Linked DNA regions of Homo sapiens: region 2 is linked to region 1. Evidence: fine-mapped expression QTL. A gene starts in region 1. The other region holds a variant in brackets. All regions are shown on one strand. Distances are from middle to middle.

Region 1 (2,845 bases):
TTCTCCTAGGCTGCTAAGTGGACAGAGCTAGGGAATATATGCATGTATGAACATGTGCAAACACACATTACATTTGTATTTATTTCTTTTCTTTTCTTTTTTTTTTTTTTTTTTTGAGGCGGAGTCTCCCTCTGTCTCCCAGGCTGGAGTGCAGTGGCGCGATCTTGGTTCATGGCAACCTCCACCTCCTGATTCAAACAATTCCCCTGCCTCAGCCTCCCGAGTAGCTGGGATTACAGGCATGTGCCACCACGCCTGACTAATTTTTGTAGTTTCAGTAGAGATGGGGCTCACCATGTTGGTCAGGCTGGTCTCAAACTCCTAACCTCAAGTGATCCACTGGCCTCGGCCTCCCAAAGTGCTGGGATTACAGGCTTGAGCCACCACGCCCAGCTTATTTGCAATTATTTATATATTTAGCAAATGTACTGAAAACCATGGGTTCACACTGATACCTCCAAAACCAAGTCAACACCAAATGGTTATCTTAGTTTTCTCTCTTTCTGTGTATACCACTCCCTTCACCAACAGTAAGAAAGCAATTAGGCTACATTTTATTGGTAGATGAAAATTAGGTGTAGAACTTCATGGATTCTAAACAAAGGGACTGAGTGATTAGGAGAATAGGAATCAAATATATACTTTCCCCCCTTCGGTTGGCTCTGTGAAAATTTATATCAAAATTTGCCTCTATAATCTCATTTTTAATAAAAAAGCAGGCAGATGTTGGAAATGGTATTTGTTTTTTCTTTCTAGAGCATCTGGGGGTGTCTAGAAATGGAAAATAGTGTTATTGTATAGAATTATGCATCATGTTCCTTAGTAATGAAAAATGAATGCGTATTCAATCAAAAAGTGAAAAAAAAACTTTTATTAAATGATGTTGAACTTTGTTTTCATCTTCAATAAGCCTAGAAGCATCCTTTCTAGAAGGTTACTTTCTGAATTGTGAGCAGTGAAAATTTGAGAAGCCCTCCTATTTATCAAAAGTCAATGTTTCTTTTAATTAAAAGGGCTTAGGAAAAACAAAAAGCACTTTTCCATTGCATTGTTTGCAGTTGTTCTTCATTAGACAATACCAGGTTTCCATTAGCCTTGTGTAATTCAAGAGCCCAAGAACCACTGTCAAATGCTGAAGATGTTACTGCATAAGTCTGATTTAGAACAGCTATTTGGATTTCAATTATTAATGAAATTAGTGTCCTGAATGTCAGCAAGAGTACTGCCTTAGGTAAAGGCTGTAAAGGAAATCATATTAGTGTGGAATTTCCTCTCCTTAGGGGCTCCTCTTAGATTACATTATTCACTTAGCTATCTCCTGTCAGGAAAATGGAAATGTTGGCCACGGTCTGATCTTGGGGCAGAACCAAAGGGAGAAGTTAAGGGATTTCATGACGGCATCAATTCCAAAACATTTGCATGGTGCTGGTATTGCCTTTGGTCCCACTGAGTGTTTACAAAATAGCACCAGTAAGGATAGCATCAACTGGCAAACGGAGAAGGAGGAGAACAGAGTGGAGAGGAACCCTGTTAGGAGAAATTGAGCGGCATTCCATCTGGTAGGCAAGTTTGCATTTCTCCTTTTTGGGATCTGCCCAGGAATGTTGTCAAGTGTAATGGCTCCCCTGTGGGCCTGCATCCTGGTGGCTGCAGGTGAGTCCTTTTAATAATTTTACTAGGCATTAAGGATTAACTCTTAGAAGATAGAGACAATATTTGTATACACCGTACTGTAGGACTTCTCAGGCATGTTTGTTTTTATTCATCGTCTGTAAAATGCCAGTCCTGTGAAGCTATATGGAAAACAATGATTTGTTTGTGACTTGGCTCCTATGATTGCAAATACGTATACATATAGCATCAGACTGTGGGGCTTTTTACACATAGCTGAAAATATGCTCTGAAATGTTATAATTGCTTGATAAATCTCTGCTTCTCTAGAAATCAAGCTCTCTGCAGGTTGATTGAGAGTTTGGGGCATTCTTTTTCAAATTTGCTTTTATGTGTGGATAATATGTTTTTATTATCCAAAATAGTCTTGGCTTCATTATCAGCTGTTAGCAGCCCAGAGAAAAAGTCCACTAGATTTGTCATGGCTACAGATATATGTATATCATTTTGGTATTAGAGGCCTTAACATCTCGCCTTACAAAATCTATATAGGTGATGAGTATATCTCTAAAGACAGGTACTATAAACTGGTAAGTTTTGAGTCTACAATTCCTCTTAAAAGTAATTTAGAAGTTAATACTTTTTTTTCTAAATTTCTAGAACTATATTTCCATGGCACCAGTATTAACTCTACTGAATTGAATCATTTTAGTTAGGATACAATTGATTCTTAGTACATGCGCACAAATCAAGAATTTATGATTATGCTGGTGTTCTCAACACCCCACTTTCTTGAGGTTTCTCCTAGAGCTCATATCTGAATTCTCAAGTTTTAGGATGTAACTGGAAGTGGAATGAGTCAATTATAGAGATGAGTTAGAAATTTGGTAGCCAGGAAGCTGGAAATGATTTTTTTATTGGGTAGAGAAGAAAAATAGCCACTTATCATTAAAGTATAAAAATCCTGGATGTTGAACATAAAGGATAAAAGCATATCTTAATTGTAAAAAATAAAAACAGAGGAAGTGTCATTAAATGCCAAATGGGTTTCTTAGTAGAAAATAATCGTGAACATTAAACTAAGATAAAATAGAAAAATGAAGGTAAGAAAACAGACTAAGTTCTTAACAATATCTCTCTAATGTTTTGTATTATGCATGATTTTTGTTCTAAATGTAGCAGAAAGAAGTGTTTTAATAGTGTCTGATAACCAGTGCTTTACCATAAATCATTC
Region 2 (2,923 bases), 56 kb after region 1:
TTCATATCAAAAAAAAAAAAAGAATCTTATTCAGATCACCTCATTAAGTCCTCCCCAAAACTCTGGGGTAGGTGACAGTATCCATCCTCCCTTCAGAGAGGCTGACTAACCTGTCCAAGGCATGTAGCTAGGAAGTGGCAGAGCTGGCATTTGAATGGTGTTAGGACAGGCTAGGTTATTGCTGTGGTAACACATGATCCCCAAATCTCTGTGGCTTACGACAGCAAGCTCTGTGCCCACAGAGGTCAGCCCCAGCTCTGATCTTATGTCCTCGCCCTGAGACCCAGGCCGCTGCAGCCTCCATTGCGAACATCACCAGTCACCACAGCACAGAAAGATACACATGTGGCTGGGTGTGGTGACTCACGCCTGTAATCTCAGTACTTTGGGAAGCTGAGGTAGGTGTGGATCATTTAAGGTCAGGAGTTCAAGACCAGCCTGTCCAACATGGTGGAACCCCATCTCTACTAAAAATACAAGAATTAGGCAGGTGTGGTGGCAGGCGCCTGTAGTTCTAGCTACTCGGGAGGCTGAGGTAGGAGAATCACTTGAACCCAGGAGGTGGGGGTTGCAGTGAGCCTAGATCATACCACTGCACTCTAGCTTGGGTGACAGAGCAAGTGACTCTGTCTCAAAAAAAAAAAAAAAAAAAAAAAAAGGAATGCCATGCACGGTGACTCATGCCTGTAATCCCAGCACTTTGGGAGGCTGAGGTGGGCAGATCACGAGGTCAGGAGTTTGAGACCAGCCTGGCCAATATGGTGAAACCCGTCTCTACTAAAAATACAGAAATTAGCAGGGCATGGTGGTGTGCACCTGTAATTCCAGCTACTAGGGAGGCTGAGGCAGAAGTATCGCTTGAACCCGGGAGGTGGAGGTTGCAGTGAGCCCAGATTGCACCACTGCACTCTAGCCTGGGAGACAAAGGGAGCCTCCATCTCAGGAGAAAAAAAAAAAAGAAGATACACACGTCCTTTCTGCTCACAACTCAGTGTCCTACTGTCCTTGTCGTGCAACCCACCGAACCACCACAAGGCCAGGAAGTACAATCCTTACAAGTGCCCAGAAAGGGGGAGAACTGGAATATTCGAGGCACAGTGCTCACAGTTACCACATAGTTTCTAATCACCAAGCTCGACTCAGTCCCTCAGTGCACTGAGCTGCCATTTCCTCATCGGAAAGGTGGGAATAGTAATTCTACCTTGCAGGGTCATTGTGGTGAATAAATGAGACAATATACAAAAATCTCAAGCCTAGGAACACTGAGTCGTAGCCATTAGTATGTTCATGTGTGAAGTTCAGGAATACTCTGGGGCTGTTCAGTTCGACCCTTTTTCAGTGCAATGACAAATCAAGATACGGGATTTAGAAGAGTCCTCTGAAACAAGAGGACAAGTTTGGGAAATGCTGCTGCTCTCTGAGTGCATGAAACCACCTTCAGGGAACCCAGAGAGAAAGGAAAATTTCCAGGAGGACAATCAGTGGCAACAGCCAATGTGCAAATGTGATTATGTCAGCATACACGCAGACTGCTGAGCGCTTCTCCAGGACTCTTCATTTAAGACTAATTAAATGCTTGGAACCAGGAAGATTGAGAGGGTCCTCTCCAGGAAGCTATTCCAGGCCAGCAAGACACTTCAGGGTCTATTTACAGAGGTGGAACGCTCCAGAGGAGGAGGAAGAAGAGGGTAGCTCAACTGAGAGCACTCCAGAGGAGGAACAGGAGGCCAGAAGGGCTGAA[A/AATCAC]ATCACTCAGGATATTGCAGGGTCCTCCCGCCCCAACCTTGGCCTCCGAGGGTCTGAGGTTTTGTGTGATGTAAGAAAACAAAACTAGGGTTTGTGCTGGTGATTGCAAAATGAGAACTGCCTGTGGAATGGCATGGGTTCGTTTTCCTTTGCCACGGTGAAGAATTACCATAAATTTAGCTGCTTGAAACAACACAAGTTTATTGTCTTACAGATCGGGAGGTCAACAGTCCGAAGTCAGTTTCACTGGGTTAAACCAATTCTGCCAGCCGAGTTGGTTCCTTCTGGAGGTTCTCAGGGGAGAATCTGTGCCCTTGCCTTTTTCAGTTTCTAGGGGTCACTGGCATTCTTCAGTTCATGTCCCCTTCCTCCGTCTTCAAGGCTCAAATCCAGTTTCTGCTTCTGTCATGCACAGCCTTCTCTTCCATCATCAAATCTCCTTCTGCCTTCCTCTAATAAGGACACTAAATCAGTACATTTAGGACGGACCCTGGCAACCCAGTACAACTTCTCATCTTAAGATCCCTAATTTAATCACATCTGTAATTTTCCCTTTTGCCGTCTAAGGTAAGAGCTATAGGTCCCAGAGATTAGGACCTGGGTATCTTTGGGGCCATTATTCAGGATACCACACAAAGCTTTTGAGATGGTTTGAATAGCAAAAGGGCAACAATTGTCTTAGGCCATCTTGCATTGCTCTAAAGGAATACTCAAGGCTGGATAATTTATAAATAAAAGTTTGTTTGCCTCATGGTTCTGCAGACTATACCAGAAGCATAGTGCCAGCATCTGCTTCTGGTAAGGGCTTCAGGAAACTTCCACTGATGGTGGAGGGTGAAGGGGAGCAGGCTTCACATGGTGAGAGAAGAGGAAAGAGAAAGAGGGCAAGGCAGCTAGGCTCTGCAACAACCTGCTCTTGTATGAACAATTCGAGCAAGAACTCACTCATCACCATGGGGAGGGCACCAAGCCATTCAAGAGGGATCCACCCCCATGACACAAACTCCTCCCACTAGGCCTTACCTCCAACCTTGGGGATCACATTTCAAAACATGAGATTTGGAGGGGACAAACATCCAAACTATATCAACCGTGAACCCAACTGCATCCATAGATCTTCCACTTGGCCCTGGGGTAGGAAGCACCCTGCAGGCCTAGCTGTGTATGGAACCTGTGTGATGA

Evidence for each region. PIP is the estimated chance that this variant, and not a neighbour inherited with it, causes the effect.
Region 2: its variant is fine-mapped to the expression of HTR3B in whole blood (TOPMed, PIP above 0.99).

The regions. Positions count from the first base shown.
Region 1 is chr11:113,903,333-113,906,177 of GRCh38, forward strand. It overlaps HTR3B (5-hydroxytryptamine receptor 3B), which reads left to right and starts at 1,464. Exons shown (of 9, transcript NM_006028.5): 1 at 1,464-1,653. The coding sequence starts at 1,602.
Region 2 is chr11:113,959,339-113,962,261 of GRCh38, forward strand. No RefSeq gene overlaps it. Among named protein-coding and RNA genes, the nearest start is that of HTR3A, 14 kb to the right of the region's middle. The variant A/AATCAC (reference allele first, on the strand shown) is at 1,742.